Linked DNA regions of Homo sapiens. The protein of the gene in region 1 purifies or fractionates together with the protein of each later gene. This does not show direct contact. Each region holds a gene or a part of one and is shown in the gene's direction. Other genes may lie near its edges. The genes, in order: UXS1, TSKU, RMND1 and XPO4.

Region 1 (7,840 bases):
ACTCCAGGGGTTTTGATTATTTGCAAAGTGGAAGAAAGGAACCACTTTTAAAAATGGCAAGTAAATGATGGATTTAAGTATAGGAACATTTAATACAGGTTCTGCAAATAGACTTGGGACATACAGCACTAAATTTTAATTTGAACAAAGCGTGGAGTCGAGAATGAAAGGACAGCCAGAGATTGGTTTATCTCTTAGATGCAATATTTTAGGGGGTGGTACTAGTCAAGGTTCTACAGAAGAACAGAACCAATAGGATGTGTAGAGATTTAGAGAAAGAGATTTGTTACGAGAGATTGGCTCACATGATTATGGAGGTCAAGAAGTCCCACCGTCTGCCTTCTGCAAGCAAGAAAGAGAACCAAGAAAGCCAGGGGTGTAGTTCCAAGGCCTGAGAACCAGAGAGCCGAGGGCAGATCGATGTTCTGTGTAAGCAGTTGACCTTCCTCCATCTTTGTGTTCTAGTCAAGCCTGTAAGGGACTGGATGATACATCCACGTTGGGGAGGGCCATGTGTTCTACGCAGTCTACACATTCAAATTATCCTCTCTTCCGGAAACACCTTCACAGATACCCCCGGACATAATGTTCAACCAGATACCTGGGCATCCTGTGGCCTAAGTTGACACATAAAATGAACCATCACAGGGGACAGGTTGTTTGGAGTAAGATGATTCATTCTTCCTATCTGGAAAGAGCTTTATCTTCTTTGTTACCGTCTCCTGCTCTGGTCACCAGACAGAACAGGGTGCTGCTGCTTCTGCTTAGAGGTGTGCGTGATGCCCTCTTCTTGCCATCACAAGCGCCTACCCCTCCTACACTCTCTCTGTCCCGCCCCCCTCCATCATACCAGAACTAGACCATAGAGGAAAAGATCATGCACTTGGTGTTTAGGGAGATTCCGTTTATTCTTCCTACTCGGGGGATGCAGTCACTGTGCCCGTGGGTCCTGTCACTGGGGCAGATTCAGATGGGGTTACCCTCAGGCTCTTCTGCACTTGGTGCCCTATGGGGGTTGGGGGCTGCTGAACGGGCACAAGCGTCGATGATACCTAGTAGGAAAGGAAAGTCTCCCAAAGAGAGGCCTCAGCAAAGTGCTGTTAGAGTTAAAGGCAAAAATGACTCGAGCTAGGGCTTGAGCTATGACTGAGATTGAATGTGGAGGCCTTGCAGGAATGGTAAAGAGTCTTCCAGGAGAGATACAAAAGGCAAAGGGAGACCATTGGTAGGCTGGAAAGAAACCCAAATTGGACTTTGTATTCTGAACCGAGAGGCGCTGTCATTAGCCATCTTGCACTTGAGACAAGATGCCATGAACTTTGCCTGGCTTTTTCCTGGTGAGGCCCTTTCCTCTATGTAACTTGCCCACCTCCCAGACCCTGTGCTAGAGTTCTTTCTCTGATGAAAGTTTTTCGTAACCCCCAGACACTACAGCAGCAGGATAGCTCCCTTGGCTTCACTCCCTGACAGTTGTCTCTGTAGATCCTGCGTGAGTCATTCCATGAAAGTGCTACAGAAATAGTCTTAGTTTCAAAATCTTTAAACTCAGTTGTTTTTGAAATATAACACATTGCATTTGTGATGTGTGTTTGTGACCAAAGTTCAGAGAAAACTATAAACTAGAAAGAACTCAGGTAGGGGGGAATATAAAATGTATAGTTACTCTGGAAAACAGTTTGACGCTTTCTTAAAAAACTAAGTATGCATCTACTGTAAGACTCAGTAATTGTATTCTTGGGCATTTCTCCCAGAGAAATGAAAATTTATGTTCACATGAAAACCTGTGTGAATGTTCATAGCAGCTTTACTTGTAGAGGTCAAAAATGAGAAGCAACCAGAATGTCCTATCATAGGTGAATGATTAACGGCAGTGCATACATATATCCCCGGGAATTCTACACAGCAATAGATTAGGAAGGAACTTTGATACACACTGCAGCTTGGATAGATTTTGAGGGAAATATGCTCCATGAAAAAATTCAGTCCTAAGAGGCCGTGTTCCATTTGTGTATCATCCTTGAAATGACACAATTATAGACATGGAGAATTGGTTAGTGGTTGCCAGGGGTCAGCAGGTGGGAGGGAGCGAGGAGAGGCTGTAGAAGGGCCCTGTGAGGGATCCTGGTGGAGATGGAAATGCTCTATCACTTTTATCAATGGAATGTCCGTTTCAGTGGAAATAGTCACTGATCATATCAATGTCAATGTCCTGATTGTGGCACAATCTAGTTTTGCAAATTTTAGCATTGGGGGAATCTGGGTAAAAGATACATAAGGTCCCTATACTACTTTGTACAATTGAATTTGAATGTACAAATATCTCAAAAAATTTAATCAGGAAGAAAAAGATCTCAGAGTCCTTCATTTTGAAGCTACTACATTGTCTGACACACTGATACCCCTGGCTGCTGCACGCTAGAATCCTACCACCCCACCCAGCCTCACCCAGAAGCGCACATAGGTTGCATGTGCCTGGCTCGTCTCACCCTCCTAGCAGTGCTTCGTGGGCATGTGTTGGCCCCTGCTGTTGGTGGGGGGGCAGAGCTGAGGGGTGTCCAGCACAGCCCCCCTCTAGTGTAGTGGCGATTGGGGGTGGGGTATGTCGCCTGTCTTAAGTACAGGGTTAGTGACGGTCAGGGGGGTTCTTGGATCCTGTAGTGAACCACTGTACACTGGGACTCTGTGAATGAGTTTGGAAGACTTTCCATACTTACTTGACCACCATAGATAATGATGTTCTGGTCAGTTACATGTGAGTGGTCAGTCCAGGAAAGGGGTTCAGAGCAGAATTGAGGAATGTGACAGTTGCTTTGGAAAAGGTGCTGTGTAAGCTGAACCGCATAGGAGGAAGAAGAATGAGTGGAGAGTTACCCAGACAGGGTGGCATGGGCAGTTAGAAGAGCCCAGGAGATGTTCAGGAAGTGGCAAGCTGACCATTGTGGAAGTTAAGGAGAAAAGGGCCTTGCCTTCTGCCAACCAAGGGAAAGTTACCCAGTAAAATATGGGGTAATATTTGGGGGCAGAGGAGTCTTCACGAAACTCCTCAAATCACACTTTATCAAACTAACAGATTCTGCGTTTGGCCCTGCTTATGACAAGTATTCAACAAAATACTGGCCTTCTGAGAATCCATTTATGTTTTTCTTACTGTATTTGTTTTGTTTATTTTGGTGCCAAAGCAGACGCAGTAAGGGTAGATAATTGGATAGATAATTAAATGTCTTTAATACTAAAACATTGCTTAAATTGGCCAGCAAAAAATGTGCCTGCACATGTAAATTCAGTCTCTTTTATCATGTCATTGCTTTCTGTAGGGCTGGCAAAACGAGTCGGTGCCCGTCTGCTCCTGGCCTCCACATCGGAGGTGTATGGAGGTGAGTAGGAGGCTCTCTCAGGAGATGTTCACTCCAGCCCTTGGACTGTTTTCATCCTGTCTCAGAAGAGTCCAGTGTTCTTTTCTGAGGAGGCCCAGCCTGCCCATGCTCCTCTTGTGCACAGGAGGCTACCTGTCGGCCTCCCGGGTCGCCAAGCTCCTCTTCCTTGTGGGACAGCCTCTCTTGTTTGATCACACATCACTGGAGGTCTGCACCCTGTCACCTGGCCAGTAAAGACCCACCATTTATGATTCCACAGAAGTGTTTCTGCCATTCTGCTCTGAAAACACCCCACAAATCACACTATCTTTTTACCTGTTTGTCTAGCACATGTCATTCTTCTATGTGAGTCATGCATGCTGCATGCCTGACCTCCCAAGAGCTCATGGGCTGGCCTTTAAAGCTTGCTGGGAGAAGAGACATGCGCTGACTGCCTCCCCTGTTGTATAACGAGTTCTGGAAGAACCTTAAGCAGGTAGTGTCAGAACACCCACGAGCTTGTTTTACCAAGCTACAGCCTTCCTCTCCTTCACTGCCTGAGAAGGAGTTGAGGAGTGGGGACCAGGAGCTGTGTTTTCAATGTGTGTTGATTTCTCTTCAGCCCCAAACCAGCTGGGTGTGCAAGGTTCAGGAGAACTGCTTAGCTGATACAGCGGAAGCCAGGTTTTAGTATGATGTAATTTTTCTATTTTACATTATTATTGTGGACAAGAGAAGGAAGTAAGAGGGTAAAATCAGAAGAGACTTTTTTTTAATTAAGGAAACCAAATGAAAAAAATCATAGCAACAGAGAAATTCTTCTAAATGCAGTGATATTCTTTGTAATCTCTATGAAAAGGTAGTTCATTGTCTACTTTTTTGAAGTCCTGGGCAGTTATTAATAAAAGAGCAGAGTGTGTCCCTCCCTACCTATGGGGTATGGTATCTGTCCAGAGGGGAACAGTGACATCTTTCCCACAGCCATCCTGCTTCCCCTACTCATCTCATTTATTATCTGCATGTCTGACAGGAGCCTGTGTTCCTTAGGCTTCCTAAATAATTGGAGAGTGTAATTTATGGAAGTCACCAGGTGCTCTCCTCTGACCTTGAATAACCAAAGTAAACTTTTGTGGAGTATTTGCTTAGTGTCTTAGCCTCACAGAATGCTGGAAAGGGGAGATGATTGGAAATTATTTTTGACTCTAGGTCTTTACTTTTGTATTAACAATGTAAGCTGTCCCTGTTTTATTCCACGGTGATTTTGTGAGGGGACTTATTTAGAAGCTTGGCATCCTGGGCATTTCAGTCCAGACGGTGCCAGTCCAGGGACAGATGGGCGTACCCAGCCTTTTCTTTCTTGTCCTTTGTCAAATTTATGACCATCTTTTTTGGAGGGTAGCTTGCCCAGCTCTTGTTAAAGATCCCCAGAAAAAGGTCTGGGATCAATCATCTGGTACATTCTGTGAATTTAAGTCAATGGTTCCTTTCTCTCAGGAAGTATTTTCCTTAGAACTTTTCTCTCACTGAGTAGTGAGAAGTTTGCTCTTTGAAAGGGAATTTTAAACCACAGCAGCAGATACATAGACCTTTCTTTGCAGCACACTTCTGCATTGCTGCGGAGGCTGTGCTGACCCAGAGGGATCGGCTGAGCAGACAAGTGGCAGGATACCTGTCTGTTTACCTCCCTGCACCTGCTCAGGCCCACTGAGTCCCAAGTCAGACTTCAGGGGTAAGATAAACAAGATGGGAATTTATAACAATGCATCTTTTTGTCCAGATTTCGTGGCAAAGACTTATACATTTTATATCATAGTTGTACTCAAGTATGTATAAAATTCTTGGTGTACTAAATAAATTAGGTGTATATTCATATTCCAGAAATATACTTGTGTGAATAAAAGAATTTGTTACGTGTTTTCTTCCAATAGTCTCTTCCCCTGGTATGTCTTAAAGTGTGATTGATTTATACGCTAGAGAAACAGGAATTGGGAGTGTAAAATGAGGGCTAGAAGAACAGGCACCCATTTGCCAGGGGCACCCCGTCCCTCCACCTGCCCTACAGGAGCCTCCACGTTGACTTGTCACGGGTCCCAGATTTGTTCTGCTGATGGCACATGTCAAAGTCATCATGTTCCAGAGATGCTGCGTTTTTCATTTTTTTTCAATAAATACATGATTTGCTCCAGTTATCAACTTTATAAATATAAAACAAAACCACATATCTCTTCACATAGATTCTATTTAATTGTAATTTGTGTAGCACTCTGAAAGTTAAGAACAATTTACGGAAGAGAGGGAAGACTTAAAATTGGGAGACCTGATCTTTTTCTTTTTTTTTTTCCCCTGTAAGTAAAATATTGTCATTGCTTAATATCATATCCTACTGGAACTCAAGAGAATGGACTGGAAACCTGAGGTTGCCTCTTTAATACATCTCTCCATCTCTAAATGGGTCTTTCCGAAGTTCCCTTTTGCATCATAAATATGCATTATTGATATGAACTGGAAAAAGGAAAGATGAAAACAGTCTCACTTTTCTCCCATCGTAGATCCTGAAGTCCACCCTCAAAGTGAGGATTACTGGGGCCACGTGAATCCAATAGGACCTCGGGCCTGCTACGATGAAGGCAAACGTGTTGCAGAGACCATGTGCTATGCCTACATGAAGCAGGTATTTCACCAGGGTCTAGGCTTGCGGTTTAGGCGTGCTGAGCACCCTGACCTCAGATGTAAAGTGTTGTAAAGGAATGAATGCCATGACTGATTTTGTCTGGGGATAGGTGTTTGGGAAGCTCAGTTTCCCAGTATTATAAATTAATGGTATTATCAACAGCTTTTTCCATGTATCTCCTTATTTTAAAAATGATTTCCTAGAGATCAATTCTTGGGTTTGGAATACTATTTTATGGCTATGAACAGAATGCTTCTTCATTGCCAGTTGCTCACCAGCAGCTAAGAAGTACCTCTTTTCCTGAAGCCTCCAAATCAATGGATCTTCTTTTTTTACTTTTCTATCAATTAAGTAAAAAAATGGATGCGTTATTGCTGTAATTTGAACCTCTTTATTGTTATTGATATTTATTTACTGTTATTTCATGCTTTCTTCATTAGTCATTGTTGTGCTGATGATATTTTATGTGACAGATTTGGTCACCTGCATGTTATAGCAGAAATTGCTCACAGACCAAGAGGCCGAGGTTGCCACACTGGCTGTGCTGCTGTGTGACTCCAAGATTTAAGCCGTCATTCTCTCAGTTCTTATCTCTGACACAGGGTTTGTGAAGCCTGCCCTGCCCATCTCAGGGTGGTGCAGGAGCCAATGAACTGTGCAGAGAAGGTGGAGGCCTGGGCACAGGATATCCCATTCATGTTCTCACTGAGTGTGTCCTTGGGCTTGGGTCTGAATTTTCACATCCTCATGAAAATGCCCTCTGGTATAGTGGGACATGCAGGTAAATCAACATGGCTGTGGAACGTTGGTCCAGGACAGGCTGTTGGTAGATGCAGTGTCTGTTTCTGGGAGCAATGCTGTCAGGCCCAGGGCCCAGTCTGCAGGTGAGCCTGGGGAACTGTCGGCTATGTGCTCTGTAGGAGGGGCAAGTGTCATCAGCATGGCCAGCATCCAGGAGTTTTCCTGACTGTCTGTCTCAGGCCCCGGCAGAGCCCCAGTCAAGCATGTGCCAAGGGCCAGGTCTCCTGTTCCTGACCTTGGGATGAGAGTTTAATCGACTTCCCTTCCCGTGGTACCACAGAGGACAGGGCAATGTAAAGCCAGGTAGGCTCTCTGAGGGGTAGGAGAGAATGTCGAGGACTCTCTTTCTCATCATGTGTTTAATGAAATGCCAGCATTAAAGATGCATAAATTAACCTTATGCTATTGTTTATATTTAAACTTTTCTGCTTTATTTCTTGGCCAGAAGCAGAACTAATTGCCTTCTAAGCGACTTTAGTCTGTTGGCTTACATTATCCACTTCCTCTATGAAATGCCGATCAGTTTTAGTAGGAACATACTTTCATCATTTTGGGGCCCAGAATATCTTGACTCAAAAGTTTCAGATGATCTTCCAGACACACAGGACCACTCTGTGTGCATGGGTACTTAGGAGTACTGACTAGAGTGTCAGGGGTACATCATTGCATTTTATTCTAGAATGTGTTCCAGGAGTGATATGATTCTCAACTGTTTTCTTTTGCTTTCAGTCCTATGATTGTATTTCTTACCTAGTGAATTTTTATATAGGTAAAGCTGGTGGACAAATGGGACATTTTGATTGAGCTTTTAGTTTTCATTAAATGATTATTCGGCTAATGTAGTTGATAACTTTATGGGTATACCTATTGCCTTAAGTATAAGCTTGCGATAATTATGGTATTTGGCAATAATAGAAGCAGCACTTCTTGAGCACCGACTGTATGCTAGGTACTGTTCTAGGTATTTGGCAATAATAGAAGCAGCACTTCTTGAGCACCGACTGTATGCTAGGTA
Region 2 (6,129 bases), on another chromosome or scaffold:
TGTAGCAAGTCACTCCTGCTAAAGATGGTCAGCCACCTTCCTTTTCCGATCCTCAGTTTCTCTGCTCTAAAATGGGGATGAGACTGCTGGCTCACAGAGTGACTGTGCGGACTAAATGAAAGCATGTGTGTCCAGCACTAGCAGAGAGTGAGGACTGGCCCTGACTGTCACTGTCGTCACTTCCCACTGCAAATGCCCAGCCCCGGGCATAGGCCCGGCACAGAGCAGGAACCCCGGGAGAGGTGTCTACTGTGCAGGGCTGAGCAAGGAACCTAGTTCAGTGCCCTGGGAGCATCTGCAGACAGTTACCTAGGTAACTCCTGCCCCTTTACATCAGATGCCTCTTTACATCGGCTGTTACTACCATTGCCTCAGTTCTGTATCTTCTGGCTGCTGGGTGATGACTGCCCTGTGCCTGTGCACAGCCCTTCACAGTTGGCAGTAAGGGTTAATCAACTTAGGTGAAGAGGGCAGGGCAGAAATTGCCACCCTGTAGTGCAGAGGACAAGGCTGAGGCTTAAAGAGGGGCAGCGAGAGGTCCCCTCTGGCGGGATAGCATTTGGGTCGTATTTTGAGCTGCTGGTTACATAAGTGGGAGCTCATATGAGGCCATTTGGCATTTCACGGACCCCTTGTATAATCACCTCTGGGAATCAAAGGGTAATCTCAGGGCCTTTGTGCTGTTTGTTTAAACCCCAGGAAGGGTGGGTATGAATGAGCAGATCAGCTTAGCAGGGGAGGTGGGGCCTTTGGTGGTAATGAGCCCTGCGGTGAGGAGCTCGCCCAGGGGAACAAAAGGGGCCTGAAGCAACTTAATATTTTCCTTTTGGTTCCAGACATTGGAACACTCTGTCCTGCCTCAGCTGGGACCATGCCCAGGATGCACCTGGGCTGGATTTAATCCTGAAATTGGCCTCTACAAAAGAAAGGGGTGGGAGAGGAGGGTCCCACATGGGGAGGGGGGCAGGGGAGAAGAGTCCCACTTTTCCCTGCCCCTGGGCAAAGCCAGAGTGCAGATCAAGTGGCTAGCCCTTTAAAGTTTCATGCAGGGCTGGTAATGCAATCCTGCTGCTCCCTCCCACCCACCTTCCAGTCTGGAAGGTGGGCAGGTCCCTGGCCCATCTCCTCCCCCTCTCTCACCTCCTTCCTGAAGTCCAGAGGGAGGGATGGGCAGGAGGGCAGGGGCCCAGAGCAGGGCCACCCAGATGAAGAGCCTGGCTAGAAGGAAGCTTAGTGCCTTCTGTCTCCCAGGCTGCTGAGGGGCCACTGTGCAGGGCCGGGGTGACGACAGACTATCCAATTGGTCTAGTTAGAAGCTCCCACTGCCCAACCCTCTCCTTCTCATGCTGGCACCACTGAGCACCACCATCCCAGGAGCTACAGTGGACGTGAACACAGGCTTTGAATCCAACAGCAGTGGGTGGTGTGACCATTAGATGTGACAACACGTATGTAGCACCTGGCATCTGTAGCAGCCACCACTGTAATTGTACAGAGGGAACTGAGATCTGAGGAGGGACACTGGCTCATGCCACAGCATGTGTCAGTGGGAAAAGCCCCTCCTGCACCCTGCCTCTCCACCAGCTACTCTGCCAGTCCTGCTGGAGGCAACGCATATGAATATAGTAATTGGAGTACACCAGGCCTGGGTCCCATTCCTGCCCTGCATTTTACTAGTTTGGGGTAAGGCCCTATTCCTCTCTGAGCCTCTGTTTCTTCATCTGTATAATGGGGGAAGCAGCCTAACTGCCTGCCCGAGGTTAAAGGAAGAACCAAAGAGGTGTAGTAGCTTAATCTGCTGGTGGCAAGGGACAGAGTAAGGGGGAAAGAGGCTTGGGACAGGTGTCCCCAAAACCCATCTGGGAATCTGGACACCCACGTTGGACACCAGGATGCCCAATGAGAAGGGAAGTTCCTGCCCCTGGATGACAGGCTAGGGGGACAGGGCAGGTGGAGTATGGGTGCGGTGGGGCAGTCACTGCAGGCCCCATTGCAGGGAGGGAGTCCTGGTCTTGAAGGCCAGCCCCGGCCAGACCACAGGTGCTTTCTCTGTCAGTGTCCCCTCTAGTGCCACTCCACTCTGCTGTGTGGCTGTCCAAAAGCGTCTTAACCTAAGGCCCAGTTCCCTTTTGGTAAAACAGAGAATTTTCTGCCTTGGAAGGTGGTTGTGAGGGTCAGATGCGACCATGCTGTGGGGCAGCCAGAACAGTGCCTGACGTGTAACACTTGCTCAGCAGAGAGTGGGGCACCCTGGGCACACCCTACCCTCAGCCCTGTGGATGAGCCCCTCACCCGGGGCCCGAGGTCTAGACCAAACCAGGGACTCTGGACCATCAGAGCTGGAGAGGCCAGCCCGAGAAACCGTCTAGTCTGGTGGGTTTCAAACTGGGTTTCCTAACACCCTAGGCAGGGATGGTGGGCAGAAGTCGAGGGCTTCAGGTCCCCCTCACTTCAGCCAGACCAGGCCCGCCTTCATCTGCTGCTCTTGTTTAAGAAAGGGATCTGCTGCTTCTAGTTGAAAATTCACCACCTGGCCTCACGCCCCTTACCATACAAATGGAGAGGCAGAGGCCAGAGAAGAACTGGGACTAGGAACTCTGGGGAGTGTTCCAGGAAGCATTCCAGGAGGTCGGGGTCTGTGACACCTTCCAACAGTGTCTAGACTGGGCTCATGTCCTGTGTGGTGGCTTTAGACCATCTGGTGCATTCATTCCTCACCTGTGGCTCTCTTTCTAGCCCCCACCATGCCGTGGCCCCTGCTGCTGCTGCTGGCCGTGAGTGGGGCCCAGACAACCCGGCCATGCTTCCCCGGGTGCCAATGCGAGGTGGAGACCTTCGGCCTTTTCGACAGCTTCAGCCTGACTCGGGTGGATTGTAGCGGCCTGGGCCCCCACATCATGCCGGTGCCCATCCCTCTGGACACAGCCCACTTGGACCTGTCCTCCAACCGGCTGGAGATGGTGAATGAGTCGGTGTTGGCGGGGCCGGGCTACACGACGTTGGCTGGCCTGGATCTCAGCCACAACCTGCTCACCAGCATCTCACCCACTGCCTTCTCCCGCCTTCGCTACCTGGAGTCGCTTGACCTCAGCCACAATGGCCTGACAGCCCTGCCAGCCGAGAGCTTCACCAGCTCACCCCTGAGCGACGTGAACCTTAGCCACAACCAGCTCCGGGAGGTCTCAGTGTCTGCCTTCACGACGCACAGTCAGGGCCGGGCACTACACGTGGACCTCTCCCACAACCTCATTCACCGCCTCGTGCCCCACCCCACGAGGGCCGGCCTGCCTGCGCCCACCATTCAGAGCCTGAACCTGGCCTGGAACCGGCTCCATGCCGTGCCCAACCTCCGAGACTTGCCCCTGCGCTACCTGAGCCTGGATGGGAACCCTCTAGCTGTCATTGGTCCGGGTGCCTTCGCGGGGCTGGGAGGCCTTACACACCTGTCTCTGGCCAGCCTGCAGAGGCTCCCTGAGCTGGCGCCCAGTGGCTTCCGTGAGCTACCGGGCCTGCAGGTCCTGGACCTGTCGGGCAACCCCAAGCTTAACTGGGCAGGAGCTGAGGTGTTTTCAGGCCTGAGCTCCCTGCAGGAGCTGGACCTTTCGGGCACCAACCTGGTGCCCCTGCCTGAGGCGCTGCTCCTCCACCTCCCGGCACTGCAGAGCGTCAGCGTGGGCCAGGATGTGCGGTGCCGGCGCCTGGTGCGGGAGGGCACCTACCCCCGGAGGCCTGGCTCCAGCCCCAAGGTGGCCCTGCACTGCGTAGACACCCGGGATTCTGCTGCCAGGGGCCCCACCATCTTGTGACAAATGGTGTGGCCCAGGGCCACATAACAGACTGCTGTCCTGGGCTGCCTCAGGTCCCGAGTAACTTATGTTCAATGTGCCAACACCAGTGGGGAGCCCGCAGGCCTATGTGGCAGCGTCACCACAGGAGTTGTGGGCCTAGGAGAGGCTTTGGACCTGGGAGCCACACCTAGGAGCAAAGTCTCACCCCTTTGTCTACGTTGCTTCCCCAAACCATGAGCAGAGGGACTTCGATGCCAAACCAGACTCGGGTCCCCTCCTGCTTCCCTTCCCCACTTATCCCCCAAGTGCCTTCCCTCATGCCTGGGCCGGCCTGACCCGCAATGGGCAGAGGGTGGGTGGGACCCCCTGCTGCAGGGCAGAGTTCAGGTCCACTGGGCTGAGTGTCCCCTTGGGCCCATGGCCCAGTCACTCAGGGGCGAGTTTCTTTTCTAACATAGCCCTTTCTTTGCCATGAGGCCATGAGGCCCGCTTCATCCTTTTCTATTTCCCTAGAACCTTAATGGTAGAAGGAATTGCAAAGAATCAAGTCCACCCTTCTCATGTGACAGATGGGGAAACTGAGGCCTTGAGAAGGAAAAAGGCTAATCTAAGTTCCTGCGGGCAGTGGCATGACTGGAGCACAGCCTCCTGCCTCCCAGCCCGGACCCAATGCACTTTCTTGTCTCCTCTAATAAGCCCCACCCTCCCCGCCTGGGCTCCCCTTGCTGCCCTTGCCTGTTCCCCATTAGCACAGGAGTAGCAGCAGCAGGACAGGCAAGAGCCTCACAAGTGGGACTCTGGGCCTCTGACCAGCTGTGCGGCATGGGCTAAGTCACTCTGCCCTTCGGAGCCTCTGGAAGCTTAGGGCACATTGGTTCCAGCCTAGCCAGTTTCTCACCCTGGGTTGGGGTCCCCCAGCATCCAGACTGGAAACCTACCCATTTTCCCCTGAGCATCCTCTAGATGCTGCCCCAAGGAGTTGCTGCAGTTCTGGAGCCTCATCTGGCTGGGATCTCCAAGGGGCCTCCTGGATTCAGTCCCCACTGGCCCTGAGCACGACAGCCCTTCTTACCCTCCCAGGAATGCCGTGAAAGGAGACAAGGTCTGCCCGACCCATGTCTATGCTCTACCCCCAGGGTAGCATCTCAGCTTCCGAACCCTGGGCTGTTTCCTTAGTCTTCATTTTATAAAAGTTGTTGCCTTTTTAACGGAGTGTCACTTTCAACCGGCCTCCCCTACCCCTGCTGGCCGGGGATGGAGACATGTCATTTGTAAAAGCAGAAAAAGGTTGCATTTGTTCACTTTTGTAATATTGTCCTGGGCCTGTGTTGGGGTGTTGGGGGAAGCTGGGCATCAGTGGCCACATGGGCATCAGGGGCTGGCCCCACAGAGACCCCACAGGGCAGTGAGCTCTGTCTTCCCCCACCTGCCTAGCCCATCATCTATCTAACCGGTCCTTGATTTAATAAACACTATAAAAAGTTCTTTGCTTTACTCAGCCAGTGTCCACTGGCAATCCCTGGGCTGGGCTCTGGGGCCACAAAGATGAATCAGGTTAGGCCCTGCCCTGGGCAGCTTGTTCTCCCTGAAAAGCCTGATAATCTCAGGATTTGGGGAGTAAGGTGACGTGAAGGAGGGAGTTCCTGCACCCTGTTCACCTCTCATCTCCCGTGGCCCTACCCCACTGTTCCTGCCACCCCAGCTCCAGCCATAGCCATGAGCATGCAGGCCCTTGCACACCTGTTCTCTTGCTCAGGCGTTACTGTGGGACCTTGCCCTTGCCCTCACCCCTGTCTCTCAACCTCCTTCCTATCCAGTAGACCTAGTTCTTGCCCGCCCGCAGAAGCTTCCTTGGCCCCTTCCACCTCCCTCCTCTGAACTGCAACAGTATTTTGTTCTTCCTTGGTGCTTCAGCTGCTATGGTACCCCAGCTCCTGTTTGCACACTTCCACTGACAGAGATCACACTTGGAGCTCATCTGGGTGGCTCTGCTGTCACCAAGTTCTTCCTTCTAACTGGCCAGTCTACAGGGAATGTCTACCATCATCACCAATGACAGGTTTTTCCTGATCCCTACTCTGTGCCCAGAACATTCAGGCCATATGCACTGGTGGGAGCTTGCCCATCTTGTAATCAGGCCTCCCCAGGGAGAAGTATCAGCTTGAGGCCCTGGGTCCGAGGCTGGCACCCAGCGGTCAAGGTAGGAAAGAGCTGAGGCTTGGCGCCGGGCGGTGTGGAGGAGAGGGAGGTCAGGGTGAGACCCCGGGCCCCCACAGTCCTCCTGTTTGTTCTCCACTTCCCCTACATTTCCTGGGACAGGAGAGGATTCAGATGGAGGTAG
Region 3 (7,840 bases), on another chromosome or scaffold:
GAAACTATCTCATGAAGAAGTTATGCAGAAAATCGGTGAACTCTTTGCTCTAAGGTAAAAGTTTTCTCTCTAAATAAAATATTTCATATATTTAACAATCTCAAGAAAACATTCCCATAGTTCTGTGGTGAAGAGCAAACATTTACACGTTTATGGGAACTGTAGCTGTTTTCATTTCATTGATTATAAGCAGGGAGAACTCTTACCCATTAGAAGTAGTTGGGCTGTGTTAAGACTGTACTGAAAGAAATCACGCATGTGCAAAAGAGATCACGATTCATCTACATTAAACCCACATTAAGGAGCACAGTAGGTGTTCTTTGAAGGTAGAAAGACATATTCCTGAATTTGGTTAATGGGAATTCTCTGTAAAAATATATCACTGCATCATAATGCTAAATAGGCTTAATTGCTACAGAAAAGTTTCTTTGAATCTGAGACACCAAGATGCCACTGGAGAGAAAAACTGCTGCCAGTTAAACTATGACAATACTTTTTTTATCAGAGGATTAAAATTTTACACTTACTGAAATATCTTTTAATCTTAGCTGGATATAAATTATATCACATTCCCTCTTGGGCATATATGAAAAGGAAAGCATAAGAAAATAAATTATTTAAGGCAAAGACAAGTAAGTCTCAAGTGCCACCTGTCAGACACCATTAATTTTAAGATGCCTCGAGATGTTAAAATGGGAATAACTATGTCTAAAAACTGATGAATCATTTTAAATAAGTATCTGGAAAGGTTTTCAGCTTTTATTATTCTTGTAGTTGTCCCAGGATTTACGGAATGAAACATCCCGGATGTTGGTGTTTTTCTCACAGGCAGCATTGTCCAGTTTATCCCTTCTAGCATGTGGAATGAGTTACCAGAGCTCACTGCAAATGTTCACCTAAGACTTGTTTTTCCATATTCTCCTTAGATGCTCTGCCTGGAGAGAAGTGATACAGTGTTTCATTGTCTGTGTATCTCTCATAGCTCAGGACCTATAGTTCAGGGTACCAACAAAACTTAAAAACCCATCCATCAGGAGCATCCTGCAGCATATCTGAAGCCTCAAATTCTCTGAGAAGTAGGGTAGAGAGATTCTTCTCTCCTGTTCTCTTGGTCATGCAAGCAGAAATTGATGTAGTGAATTATAATATCCAAACTGAATAGTTAGGACTAAATATACGTAGGTTTGTGAATAGTTTCTATAAAGGCTTACTTTTACTATCCTGTTTCCTTACCTGTACAATAAAAATGCTTATTTGTTAATATAAGGAATGTGATACATCTGTGAAAATAAACATGGCAGATAATATTAGATTAAAAAACTAAATCTAAATTTATATAGGGTATGATCCCATTTGTGTAAGCAAATAAAAATATTCATGTTTATCTTTATATGCATACACATGTACATGTGTTTGCTTGCACACACATGCATGTATGAATACAGAAAGATCTGGAAGTACACAGCAAAGTGTCTCTACAGGCCTGTCCTTGGGGAGAATAAAGGATTTAAGTAGTGTGGTAGCATAAGAGAGCCTACCATTTTTCTGAATCCTTCTCTAGGATATTTTCCTTTTTTTTTTAATCGTGAACAGGTATGTATGTGTTACTTTTTTTTTTTTTTTTTTTAAACAGGGTCTTGCTTGTCACCCAGACTAGAGTGCAGTGGCATGATCATAGCTCACCAAAGCCTTGATCTCCTGGGCTCAGGGATTCCTCCTGCCTCACCCTCCTGGGTAGCTGGGACCACAGGAGTGCTCCACCACACCCAGCTAATTTTAAAAATAATTTGTAGAGACAGGGTCTCAAACCCTTGCTCAAGCAATCCTCCTCCCTAGGCCTCCCAAAGTGCTGGGATTACAGGTGTGAGCCACCACATCAGTTTATGTGTACTTTCATAACTTAGATTTTTATTTAGTTAAACATCTAAGTGTAAGGCCAGGCACGGTGGCTCACACCTGTAATGCCAGCACTTTGGGAGGCTGAGACAGGTGGATTGCTTGAGGCTGGGAGCTCGAGACCAGCCTGGCTAACATGATGAAACCCCATCTCTACCAAAAATACAAAAATTAGCCAGGAATGGTGGTGTGCGCCTGTAATCCCAGCTTCTTGGGAGGCTGAGGCATGAGAATTGGTTGAACCCAGGAGGCGAAGGTTGCAGTGGAGCCAGGATCATGCCACTGCACTCCAGCCTGGGCGACAGAGCAAGATTCTGTCTCAAAAAAGAAAAAGGCTGGGCACGGTGGCTCACATCTGTAATCCCAACACTTTGGGAGGCCGAGGCCAGTGGATCATCTGAGGTCAGGAGTTCAAGACCAGCCTGACCAACATGGAGAAACCCCATCTTTACTAAAAATACAAAATTAGCCGGGCGTGGTGGCACATGCCTGTAATCCTAGCTACTCGGGAGGCTGAGGCAGGAGAATTGCTTGAACCCAAGAGGTGGAGGTTGTGGTGAGCCAAGATCGCGCCAATACACTCCAGCCTGGGCAACAAGAACAAAACTCTGTCTCAGAAAAAAAAGTAAGCACAGACTTCTTATATTAAAATGTAGAAATTAAGAGAGAGAGTGTGTATGTTTATGCTTGCTTGTCTAGTGTTTGCATAAACACTGGAAGGATACAGCGGAAACTAGAAGGGATTACTGATAGGGAAAGATACAGATAAGAATAAGAGTTAAGATTTATCAATTTTTACCTGTTTATATCTTGATCTGCTCAGGAGGCTGAGGCAGGAAGATCACTTGAGCCCAGGAGTTTGAGGCTGCGGTAAGCTATGATTGTGTCACTGCACCCCAAACTGGGTGACATATGAAGACATTATCTCTAAAAAAATTTTTTAAATAAAAAACAAAAAAGTGTGGACATATTAAATTTTTTTTTTATTTGAGATGGGGTCTCACTATGTTGCCTAGGCTGGAGTACAGTGTCACAGTCTTGGCTCACTGCAGCCTCTGCCTCCGAGGTTCACATGATCCTCCCACCTCAGCCTCCCAAGTAGCTGGGACTACAGGCATACACCACCACACCTGGCTAGTTCTTGTATTTTTTGTAGAGATAGGGTTTCGCTGTGCTGTCCAGGTTGGTCTTGAACTCACAGACTCGAGCAATCTGCCCGCCTTGGCCTTCCAAAGTGCTGGGATTACAGGCATGAACCACCATGCCTGGCCCTAAAATTTTTAATAAAAAAAGTTTAGGCTGGGAATGGTGGCTCACACCTGTAATCCCAGCACTTTGGGAGGCTGAGGTAGGCAGATCACGTGAGGTCAGGAGTTCGAGACCAGCCTGGCCAACTTGGTAAAACCCTTTACTAAAAATACAAAAAATTAGCCAGGTGTGATGGTAGGCACCTGTAATCCCAGCTACTTGGGAGGCTGAGGCAGGAGAATTGCTTAAATCTGGGAGGCAGAGGTTGCAGTGAGCTGAGATCATGCCATTGTACTCCAGCCTGGGTGACAAGAGTGACTCTGTCTCAAAAAAAAAAAAAAAATTGAAAACAAAATGAGTTTTTTTCTGTGTACTTCATAAATAATGTTGGTATTAAAGATTGAATTAATTTGGTTCAGAAGTTTGAAACTCATTTGTAAATTTTATTTACATGTTTGTTGGCAGTATTTTGCAAAGGTCAGCATTAACAAATGTTTTCAGCCACATGCAATGCCACATGCCTGTAGTTCCAGCTACATGGGAGGCTGAGGCAGGAGAACAGCTTGAGCCCAGGAGTTCAGTTTGCAGTGAGTTGTGATCACACCACTGCACTCCATCCCGGGTAACATAGCAAGACCCTCTCTCTTACCAAAAAAAAAAAAGTTTTCATAAAGCACTATGTAAATATTAAATACAATAGAAACAATGATTTTTAATTCAAGATAAATAAAAAGTTATAATTTTCCTTTTTAAAGGCACCGTATAAACTTGAGTTCAGACTTCCTGATTACTCCTGATTTCTACTGGGACAGAGAAAACCTGGAAGGACTTTACGATAAAACGTGTCAATTCCTTAGCATTGGCCGAAGAGTTAAGGTACGTATTTTGCACTTCTAATGAGAGAAAAAGACACGTTGTCGCCTATAAGTTGAATATGTTTAACTGCTTGCAGAGAAATATCTTGTTTGACTTCCATTCAAATCTCTTTATATTTCCCCTTCTTGTCCTCTGTACAGTCACTTCAATTTTTTGTGTCAAAGGATCTTCTGATATTAGCTCTACAGACTAGATAAGGTTGGTGAATAAGATGAGAGTTTGGAAGCCTAATGGTCCATCAGTAAGTTCTTGTCAAGTTTCAAGCAAGAGTTCATGACTGCTTCTGATCTGTCATGGTGACAGTGAGAATAGAAATAAATTTAAGAAAGAATCATGTAAGACAAATCAAGTGATGGGTAATAAGAGGCCATGGAGAAGAAAGAATAAAGGATGACTGATGTTTGCCTGGAGGTGACAAGTAGAAAGGTGGAAAAACAATAATGAGAGGTCAGAGAGGGGAGGTGACAGACTAAATCTAAGATATGCTGAGATTAGAGTAGCAACAAGATATCCAATTAGCTCCGTCATGCAGGCATTTAGAAGGGCAGAAGCAAAGTCGGGAAAAGAGACGTGTATTAAGAAATCCCAGCACTTTGGGAGGCTGAGGCGGATGGATCACCTGAGGTTGGGAGTTTGAGACCAGCCTGGCCAACATGGCGAAACCCTGTCTCTACTAAAAATACAAAAATTAGCCAGGCATGGTGGCATTCTCCTATAGTCCGAGCTACTCGAGAGGCTGAGGCAGGAGAATCACTTGAACCCAGGAGGTGGAGGTTGCAGTGAGCCAAGGTCGAGCCAGTGCACTCCAGCCTGGATGACAGAGTGAGACTCCGTCTCAAAAAAAAAAAAAAAAAAAAAGCTGTAGTGATGGAGGTAGACCACATGGGGAAAGAGCATAGAAAACAGAAAATTGACATTAGTACAATGTGTGCACATAGTTCTGTGACATTTTGCCACATCTATAGATCCATGCAACCACATGATCAAGACACAAAACTGTGCCAGGTGCGGTGGCTCATGCCTGTAACCCCAGCACTTTGTGAGGCTAGAGGTGGGCAGATCACTTGAGGTCAAGAGTTCGAGACCTGCCTGGCCAATATGGTAAAACGCTGTCTCTACTAAAAATACAAAAATTAGCTGGGTGTGGTGGCGCGTGCCTGTAGTCCCAGCTACTCGGGAGGCTGAGGCAGCAGAATCGCTTGAACCCAGGAAGTGGAGGTTGCAGTGAGCTGAGGTCATGCCATTGCACTCCAGCCTGGGCGTTGCAGCGAGACTCCATCTCAAAAAAAACAAAACAAAAAGACACAAAACTGTTTTATCACTTTTCCTCATGCTACCCTGTATAGTCACACTGCCCTCCCCCTACCCGGACTGTCCCTAACCCCTGGCAGTGAGTAATCTCTTCTCCATCTCCATAATTTTGTCATTTTGAGGATGTTATATAGATAGTCATACAGTATGTGACTTTTTTTTTTTTTTTTTTTTTGAGACGGAGTCTTGCTCTGTTGCCCAGGCTGGAGTGCAGTGGCTCAATCTTGGCTCATTGCAAGCTCTGCCTCCCGGGTTCACGCCATTCTCCTGCCTCAGCCTCCTGAGTAGGTGGGACTACAGGCACCCGCCACCAAGCCCAGCTAATTTTTTTTTGTATTTTTAGTAGAGATGGGGTTTCACTGTGTTTAGCCAGGATGGTCTCGATCTGTATGTGACTTTTTAACTGGCTTTTTTCACAGAGCATAATGCCCTCAACTTGGATCCATCCAAATTGTTGCTTGTATCAAAGTTCCTGTCTTCCTGTGGTTACTGAAACAATTTTTTGGTATTTCATTTTGATGTTACTTTTTAATATATCTCGTTGCATAGATATTTAGTAGTTGCTCTGGTTATTACATCTTACGTATATAACTTATTACAATCTACTGATTTCAACATCTTGCAGATTAAATGAAGTATAGAATCTTTATTTCCCTAATGGATGATTGGATGCAGAAAAAAAAAAAGAATTCTTATTTCTTTTATATTCCTTTACCCTTCCGTATTTATAATTTTCTTAACTATTCTTCTGCAGACATAGAAAACTTCATCAGATAATGTTATAATTTTTGCTTCAACCATCAAACATAATTTAGAAAACTAAGAAAAGCAAAGTCTGTTGTATGTGCCCATGTTTTTATTCTTTCTGTTCTTTTCTCCTTCTGATCTTCTAAGATTTCTTTTACTGTTTTTTTTTTTCAAGAACTTTATTTAGCCATTCTTTTAAGGTAAGTCTAGTGAGACAAATTCTCTTAGTTTGTCTTCATCTGAGAGTGTATTAATTTTCTCTTCATTCTTGCAGGATATTTTCCTAGAAATAGGATTCTAGGTAGACAGTTTTCTTTCTTTCAGCACCTGAAAAATGCCATGCCACTTCCTTCTGACCTCCATGGTTTCTGACGGAAATCTGCCATAATTCTATGACATCTACATTTTATCTTTTATTATCATTTCACAAGGTCTTTGAGGCTCTGTTCACTTCTTTTCCAGTATATTTTGTCTCTGTTAAGATTGGGTAATGTCCTTTGTTTCATCTTCTAGTTGATTGATTCCTTCCTCTGTTACATTCGTTCTGCTGCCCAACATTGAGTTTATTTCATTTATTATATTTTTCAGTTCTAAAATTTCCATGTTTTTTTATTTGTATCTTCTGTTTCTTTGCAGAGACTTCCTGCTTTTTCGTTTGTTTCAAATGTGTTCAGAATTGCTTGTTGAATCATTTTTATGATGGTTGCTCTAACATCATCTAATAATACCTAACCTCAGATACCTCTTGATATTAGTGTCTACTGATTGTCTTTTCTGATTCCCTCCAACTAATTTTAATACCTCCAGTTTCCCTCATTGCCTCAAGTGTTCTGGCTTGATATACAAGGTCCTTCCTATTGTTTCTGTTTTTCAATCATATTTCCTACCAATCCCCACATTCACCTTGTATCACATCAAAAATAAGTGATTAGCCTGGGAAACACAATGAGACCTCATTTCTACTAACCTTTTTTTTAAAAAAATTAGCCAGGTATAATGGCATGTGCCTGTAGTCTCAGCTACCCTGGGAGGTTGAGGCAGGAGGATTGCTTTAGCCCAGGAGTTTGAGGCTGCAGTGAGCCATGATCACGCCACTACATCCCAGTCTAGGTGACAGAGTGAGACCCTGTCTCAAAAAAATAAAAATAAAAAATACATGATTTATAATTTCAAAAACCTACCATGGCTTATTGAATGCTATGTTCCACTTTAGTGTCTACATTTTTTTCCTCTAAGCTAGACACCGCCCCTTGCAAAACCACATCAAAGCTATCTGCAGTTGTCACTGATCTTGGCACCACCTATTCCTCTGTAGGTGTCTTCCAGCACAGGACAGTAGAGATCATCACCACTCGGCAAGAAAACCAAGCTATGTTGCTTTTAGCTGACACAGAAAGATTGATTAGTGATGGTTTAGGAATCAAATTCAGTGGACTCCATCAACACAGTTTTAGATAACAGAGGTGTAATTAGACACCGATTTGACAGTCCAACTGTCTGGTCAAACATGAAAAGCACTGGACTTTCCTGGTTGTCGACTGTGCACACAGGCTGAAGATCCAGAGGAGGAAAGGGAGGGATACTAAAAGCTTTATACAGTTGAGGTATTTCCTGTGGTTGTGTTAGCTATTGCTGTGTAACAAATTACCCCAAAACTTGGTGGACTGAAACACCACTTACTGGCTGGGCACGGTGGCTCACGCCTGTTACCCCAGCACTTTGGTAGGCCAAGGCAGGCAGGTCACATGAGGCCAGGAGTTCA
Region 4 (7,840 bases), on another chromosome or scaffold:
TTTGTACCAAAGATGTGTAGAGTAGTTATTGTATTATTTCTTAATATGAAAGCTATATTCCAAATTATTAATAGCTACCATTTATTGAGTACATACTATGTTGGAGGCGCTGTGCCAAGCCCTTTACATATATTACTTTTTATCTCCAGTAACTCTGTGAGGTAGGTATTATTACTTTCATCTTCTTTTTTTTTTGACCAAGTCTCACTCTGTTGCCCAGGCTGGAGTGCAGTGGCACGATCTTGGCTCACTGCCACCTCCGCCTCCCGGGTTCAAGCGATTCTCCTGCCTCAGCCTCCCGAGTAGCTGGGACTACAGGTATGTACCACCACACCCAGCTAATTTTGTATTTTTAATAGAGACAGGGTTTCACCATGTTGGCCAGGCTGGTCTCGAACTCCTGACCTCGTGATCCACCTGCCTCGGCCTCCCAAAGTGCTTGGATTACAGGCGTGAGCCACTGCACCTGGCGTGTTACTTTCGTTTTCATTTTACAGGCTAAGGAAACTCCAACATGTAGATGCTAAGTAATCTACACAAATTTACATAGCAAGGGGTAGAGACTCAAACTCTGGTTTGTCTGTTACCAGTCTGTGGTTCTTAAGCTGTAGGATACTGGGACCAGAAAGGAGGTAAATTAATTCATCTTTGGCTAATTAAGGTTGTTAATGCTCCGTCAATTATTAAGCATTAAGCTACATATTTTAAACAGAGTGATCTTAGCATTTATCCATCTGTGGGTCTGAATATATCTTATGGAAAATTGCTGTATTTTAACTGTTAATATGCTTTGAGATTCAAAATGCAAATAGTGATGTATTTCATAATTATTTTTGCTTAATTTTTCATTAGGTAACTCATATAGTTGTTTTATGGAAATCAGCATAGAATTTTAGAACATAGAAGAATCTTAGATCTTTTGGTACAGAAGTCTTAGGGAGTCTAGGATGAATATCAAAAGGAAATTGTAACAAATTTTTTGGTGTAAATGTACATTTTTAGTAATAGGGTCTAGAGCTTTTATCACCGTCTCTGAGAGACTAGAAACTGAAAAATAAGAATCAAGTCTAAGCATTCTCCCTTCTATGCTACAGATGGGGAAACTGAGGTTCAAAGAGGTAGAAGTGACTTGCCCAAGGTAGGTCACAGAGCAAATTCATGATATAACTGATCCAGGCTGAGATCACCAGACTCCCCTTTCAAAACCTTTACTCTTTTTTTTTTTTTTTTACTTTTTTTACTCAACCATGTTGGTTCTTAGTCAACATATACTATAAATGTTACATTTTATTACTTGATGGAAAATGTCTAAATATGGTACATCTATATTCAATCAATTTAGATTATTGGATAAGCTGCCAGATAAAGTAGTACAGTTGTCCCTCGGTGTCCATGAGAGGTTAGTTCCAGGAACCGCCTCCACCCATGGACATCAACCGTGCATTGATACTTAAGTCCCCCCGATCCCCTCCCTTTCTTTTGAGACAGGGTCTCTGTTGTCCCAGCTGGAGTGTAGTGGCATGATCATGGCTCACTGCAGCCTTGAATGGGTAATTTTTTAAAAATATTTTTTTGTAGAGAGGATCTCACTGTGTTGCCCAGGCTGGTCTTGAGCTCAAGTGATACTCTTGCCTTGGCCTCCTAAAGTGCTGGAATTATAGGCGTAAGCTACTGTGCCCAGGTGAGTTTCTTACATGATATGGTATGGTAATTGTGTATGACCTATGCACATCCTCTTGTATACTAAAATGTAGGAGGTGTTTTGATTTTAGAGACAACATTATTGAAAAGTTTAGTGTTCTTATAGTATTGATGCCACATTCATTTGCAGTCCAAAGAGCGCTTTATTTATTGTCTTGAATTTGCTTGGTTTTGTTGCCCTGTCTTCATTAGGTTGTTTTGGATTGTCCTTAGTGATTGTGTGTAGCAATAATATAAGATAGTGCAGAGCACACATATTAACTGATACATTATAGAAAAGTAATTTTCATAGGTTTTTTTTTTCCTTTTTCTTTTGAGACAGTCTTACTCTTGCCCAGGCTGGAGTGCAATGGCACAATCTCAGCTCACTGTAACCTCTGCCTCCCAGGTTCAAGTGATTGTCCTGCCTCAGCCTCCCAAGTAGTTGAGACTGCAGGTACCTGGCACCACGCCTGGGTAATTTTTGTATTTTTAGTAGAGATGAGGTTTCAACACGTTGGCCAGGCTAGTCTTGAACTCCTGACCTCAGGTTATCCTCCCACCTTGGTCTCCCAAAGTGCTGGGATTAACAGGCGTGAGCCACCGCACCCGGCCCATACATTTGTTTTTAAACCAGGATGGATTTAGTGAGTGTAAATCCAACTTTAATAAACGAGATTCATGACTGGTTTTCATAGATTTTATTATAGTGGAATCTGGTTAATATCTTCTAAAATACTTGCACATCTGTAGTCCTATAGAAAAATTTTTGTCTTCATTCTCATATCAGTCCTGTGAAGTAAATAGGATGAGATATTCCTAAACCTTATAAATGAGAAAACCTGGCCAGGCATGGTGGCTCACACCTGTAATCCTAGCACTTTGGGAGGCCAAAGTAGGTGGATCACCTGAGGTCAGGAGTTCGAGACCAGCCTGGCCAACATGGCGAAACCATGACTCTACTAAAAATACAAAAATTATCTGGGCGAGGTGGTGCATACCTATAACGTAATCCCAGCTACTTGGGAGGCTGAGGCAGGAGAATCACTTGACCCCAGGAGGCAGAGGTTGCAGAGATTGTGCCATTGCACTCCAGCCTGGGCTGTAGAGCGGGACTCTGTCTCAAAAAAATAGAATAAATAAATAAATAAATATGAAAACCTGATATTCAGAGATGGCAAATGATTTGCCTGTTGTCATGTAGCTAGTTTGGATCTGGAATCCAATTTCTGGCCATTGATTTGTTTTAGAACATTTCTTCAGTATATAGAAACACAGCATGTTAGACACTATGCTGTGTATGCTGAGGAGACAGAAGAAGCACCTTCTTTTCAAGGAGTGGAGAAAGGCAAAAATATTAGCAAATGTTGGTTGGTAAAGTTATAATAGAAGTAGGTACAAACATCTATCTCAGGCTGAGATAGGGACTGAGAAAGGGCTTCTTGGAATAGGTAACCCTTAAGCTGAATCATGAAAAATAGATTAGAGTTTTCTAGTTTGATAAGCAATATCCCAGGTGGAGATATATATTTTGGGGAATATAGTCTGAGAGAATATAGTTTGGGGAAATACAGTGAGTTTGAGGAATATTTGAGCATTTATGTAGTAGATATTTCCTGAGACCTTCAATGTGTAAGGTACACTGCCTTTATTTTTTTGTAACCACAGTACACGTCATAAAAATGAAAATTTTAATTAATTGAACCTACTTTTCTTATTTGAAAGATGCATTATAGTAAGTATGCATTTTTGTTTATTTCAGCCCTGTCTTGTAGTACCTGCGGTGGCACTAGATATTAGAAAACTGGCACAGCATTCTTTTTCTCAAAAAAGCTAATTAATAGGAAATTTATGTTTCAAATTCAGTTCAATTAAATGTGTATTTGCAGTTGGACTTGTGTCACACTAATTGGAACATAGCCAGTGATCCAGAGAAGAAATGCAAAAAGGCATTTGAAATCATCCATAGATGCCTAAAAGGCAGTTGTTAAAATTTAACAGCATTTTATGATTAAAACAATTGGATAAACTAGGAATTGAAGGGAATTCTCAATATGATAACAAATAGTTATCTGAAACCATGTATTAAATGATGATATCCTCAGAAGTAAAACGGGAGTCCTAATATAACTGTTATTTAATACCTTCTGGAGGGTCTAACTGATACAGTAATACAAAAAATGGGAATAAGTGCAGATATTGGAAAGAAAGGCCAAAAAATGATTATTTGCAGGTGATATGACATTTCGGAAAAAAAGTTTAAGCAAAATAACTAAGACTGTTGGAACCATTAGTTCTTTGGAAAGATGACCAGATGTAAGAAAAATAAATGGGTTGCAAGATTTCCTTTATATCAGCAGTGATCAGCTTAAAATTGGAAAAAAGATCCCATTCTGTTAGAAAGAAAAACTGTAGAAATAAATTATAGGGCACTGATAAGAAACATGCACCATTTTTGTGAAGAACATGATACAGCTTATTTGCAGAATATAAAAGAGCTGAATTAAATGAAGGCTATGCTCCTTGGTCTGAAAGGTCAATCCGGTTAAGGTGGCAATTTCTCCCTCATTCATCTCTAAATTGAATATAATGTCAATCAAAATCTCTCTTTCCTCCTCACCCTTTTCTGAGGTGGGAGAAAAATTAATTGATTAGAAAATATATCTGGAAGTCTGTGAAGGGTTTGGGGACTTGATGTAGCAACTATTACAATGTATTCAGAAGCTAAAGTAATTGAAACATAGCATTGGCATAGGAAAAGAATAGAAAGTTAGAATAGTCTAGAAACAGAACTAAGAATAAAATGTTATTTCACATTGTAAAGGTATAGGGAAGTATGCTACAAGTTTTCGATACAAGAGCCTTCAATATATAGCTGACCCCCAGCTATTTCACTTCTGGCCATTTATTCAGTTTATGGAAATACTTGCTTATACACAAAGAATGTTTACTGTAGTGTACTTTGCTGTAGTGAAGATTGAAACAACGTAAATGTCCAGTTACACCAAATTGATTTAATATACTGGTATTCTTTATAATGGAATTTTATGGAACTCTTAAAAAATATGGTATATCTAAAATGTGATAGCTTTTTTTTTAAATGGGAAGATCTGAATGAACATGGAAAGATACTCAAAATAAGACGAAAAATTGCAGAATAGAATATATGATCCCATTTCTGTTTTCTAGAAAAAGTTCTGTATATATTTGTATATGCATAGAAACGGAAATGGAAGGCTTATACTAAACTTCTTTTTTTTTTTTTGAGACAGAGTCTTGCTCTGTCACCCAGGCTGGAGTGCAATGGTGCGATCTCGGCTCACTGCAACTTCTGCCTCTCAGGTTCAAGTGATTCTCCTTCCTCAGCCTCCCGAGTAGCTAGGATTACAGGCATGCACCACCACACCCAGCTAATTTTTGTGTTTGTAGTAGGGACAGGGTTTCACCTTGTTGGCCAGGCTGGTTTTGAACTTCTGATCACAGGTGATCTGCCAGCTTCAGCCTCCCAAAGTGCTAGGATTACAGCTGTGAGCCACTGTGCCTGGCCTATACTAAACTTCTAAGAATGGCTGCATAGGGAATGAGATTGCACATGGGAGGAGTGCTTAATATAGTTTTAATATAGTTTGAATTTTTTACAATATAAAAATTTAGACCATAAATTAATACTCCGTTTTAGTAAATTTGAATGTTGCATGCATTTCTATTTTCTTTTCTTTGAGATGGAGTCTCACTCTGTTGCCTAGGCTGGAGTGCAGTGGCGCAATCTCGGCTCCCTGCCACCCCTGCCTCCCGGGTTCAAGCAATTATCCTGCTTCAGCCTCTAGAGTAGCTGGGACTACAGGTGCACGCCACCATGCCTGGCTAATTTTGGTGTTTTTAGTAGAGACAGTATTTTACCATGTTGACCAGGCTGTTCTCAAACTCCTGACCTCAGGTGATCCGCTCGCCTCGGCCTTCCAGAATGCTGGGATTACAGGCGTGAGATACCACACCCAGCCTGAATGTTGCATGTGTTTTAAAAAAATCTACCTTTTTTTTTTTTTTTCTTTGAGATGAAGTTTCACTCTTGTTGCCCAGGCTGGAGTGCAATGGCGCCATCTCGGCTCACTGCAACCTACACCTCCTGGGTTCAAGTGATTCTCCTGCCTTAGCCTCCCCAGTAGCTGGGATTTACAGGTGCCTGCCATGATGCCTGGCTAATTTTTTGTATTTTTAGTAGAGACGGGGTTTTACCATGTTGGCCAGGCTGGTCTTGAACTCCTGACCCTCAGGTGATCCACCTGCCTTGGCCTCCCAAAGTGCTGGGATTATAGACGTGAGCCACCACACCCGGCCAAAAAAAAAATCTACTTTTAAAATCTACTTCCTTGAATGTCCTGCAATTATTTTTATGTTGAAGAATGTTCAAAGCTGTATCATGGTTCAGACTAAGACTAGGTTTGTGGTTTTGCATTTATAGACTTATAAATGCAAATGCAGGGCATTCCATTTCCACAGATTTGTTTAATCACTGCTAAGTATAATATAACCTTGTGAATAAATAAAAGGAAAAATGTCTTTTGAGTGAGAAAGAGCTAATAGAAAACTAATAAACTTTATTCTGAAAAAGAGATAGGGATTCACTCTTTCTCTGTTTGTAATTATGGGAAAAATTAGGTCCATTGTAATTTGACAATATTTTAGAGAAGGGTTTTTCAGAGTTTAGAACATGCATAACCAATCTTAGGGTGATTATTAAAACTGCAGATTTCTGGCTGGACACCGTGGCTTACACCTGTAATCCCAGCACTTTGGGAGGCTGAGGCGGGCAGATCACCTGAGGTTGGGAGTTCGAGACCAGCCTGACCAACATGGAGAAACCCTGTCTCTACTAAAAATACAAAATTAGCTGGTGTGGTGGCGCATGCCTGTATTCCCAGCTACTCGGGAGGCTGAGGCAGGAGAATCACTTGAACCCGGGAGGCGGAGAATGCAGTGAGCCAAGATCATGCCATTGCACTCCAGCCTGGGCAACAAGAGCGAACTCTGTTTCAAAAACAAAACAAAACAAAAAACTGCAGTTTCCTTTGCCTTACCTACGGAGGTTCTAATTTAGGAGGCCATGTTTCTTTCTTTTTTTTTTTTTTTGAGACAGAGTCTCACCCTGTCAGCCAGGAGTGCAGTGGCGCAATGCACGTTTAGGCTCATTGCAACCTCCGCAACCTCCGCCTCCCAGGTTCAAGCAATTCTCCTGACTTGGCCTCCTGTGTTCCTGGGATTACAGGCACGTGCCACCATGCCCGGCTAATTTTTGTATTTTTAGTAGAGACGGGGTTTCACCATGTGAGGGAGTTTCACCATGTTGGCTAGACTGGTCTCGAACTCCTGACCTCGTGATCCTCCCACCTCGGCCTCCCAAAGTGCTGGGATTACAGGCATGAGCCACCGTGCTTGGCCATGGAGACCGTGTTTCATTCCATATCCTCATCTTTTTTGTCTTTCTTAGTGGGTCTGAAGGGTCAGTATAGTGAGTGGGTGGCCTCTGCCTTGTATCCGAGCCATAAGACTGTTTCTGTCCACTGTCTTTGTTGTCCAGCCAGGGCTACCTACATAATTTGCAGGGCCCAGTGAAAATGAAAATGTAAGGCCTCTTGTTCACAAAAAGCAGGGGAAAAGTGCCATTAAGTGTTGTGAAATATAAAGCATTTTTCTTTAAAAATGTTTGCACCTTGTGAGGCTTTGGATAAGTTACTGCCTTTCCAGCTTCTGTTGACTCTTTTCCAGTCGCTTTTTCTCTTCATCAGCCACACTAGCTTTTTTGCAACCCTTCCCACTTGTGTCCTGTGTCCTGTCACAGGGCCTCTCATATACTAGTCCTTCTGTCTGGAATGCTTTTCTTCCCTGTCACTTCATCCTTCAGTTCTCTCAGTAGTCAGTTTCTCAGGGAAGCCTTCCTTAGCCTGCCTGAAAGGTGAGATTCACCTGTCCTTTTATAACAGTGTAGTTCTTTTATTTTTTTTTTTTTATTTTTTACTTTTTGGAGTTACTCTAAAACCCAGCTGGAATGCAGTGGTGTGATCATGACTCACTGCAGCCTCAAACTCCTGGGCTGAAGCGATCCTCCCCCTTTAGCCTCCCGAGTAGGTGGGACCACAGGTGCACGCCACCACACCTGGCT

What was found.
Region 2: the proteins of UXS1 (region 1) and TSKU purify together in Homo sapiens (co-immunoprecipitation; 3 studies listed by BioGRID and IntAct, with this or other methods). This does not show direct contact.
Region 3: the proteins of UXS1 (region 1) and RMND1 purify together in Homo sapiens (co-immunoprecipitation; 3 studies listed by BioGRID and IntAct, with this or other methods). This does not show direct contact.
Region 4: the proteins of UXS1 (region 1) and XPO4 purify together in Homo sapiens (co-immunoprecipitation; 3 studies listed by BioGRID and IntAct, with this or other methods). This does not show direct contact.

The regions. Positions count from the first base shown.
Region 1 is NC_000002.12:106,121,154-106,128,993, reverse strand, and holds part of UXS1 (UDP-glucuronic acid decarboxylase 1), read left to right. Parts: intron 1-3,314; coding exon 3,315-3,374; intron 3,375-5,902; coding exon 5,903-6,024; intron 6,025-7,840. UniProt on the Homo sapiens protein: Catalyzes the NAD-dependent decarboxylation of UDP-glucuronic acid to UDP-xylose. Necessary for the biosynthesis of the core tetrasaccharide in glycosaminoglycan biosynthesis.
Region 2 is NC_000011.10:76,792,873-76,799,001, forward strand, and holds the end of TSKU (tsukushi isoform b precursor), read left to right. Parts: intron 1-2,736; coding exon of another isoform or gene 2,737-2,744; coding exon 2,745-3,806; 3' UTR 3,807-5,272; downstream 5,273-6,129. UniProt on the Homo sapiens protein: Contributes to various developmental events and other processes such as wound healing and cholesterol homeostasis through its interactions with multiple signaling pathways.
Region 3 is NC_000006.12:151,413,459-151,421,298, reverse strand, and holds part of RMND1 (required for meiotic nuclear division protein 1 homolog), read left to right. Parts: coding exon 1-54; intron 55-3,899; coding exon 3,900-4,020; intron 4,021-4,027; exon of another isoform or gene 4,028-4,218; intron 4,219-5,750; exon of another isoform or gene 5,751-5,881; intron 5,882-7,840. UniProt on the Homo sapiens protein: Required for mitochondrial translation, possibly by coordinating the assembly or maintenance of the mitochondrial ribosome.
Region 4 is NC_000013.11:20,892,737-20,900,576, reverse strand, and holds part of XPO4 (exportin-4), read left to right. Parts: intron 1-7,840. UniProt on the Homo sapiens protein: Mediates the nuclear export of proteins (cargos), such as EIF5A, SMAD3 and isoform M2 of PKM (PKM2). In the nucleus binds cooperatively to its cargo and to the GTPase Ran in its active GTP-bound form.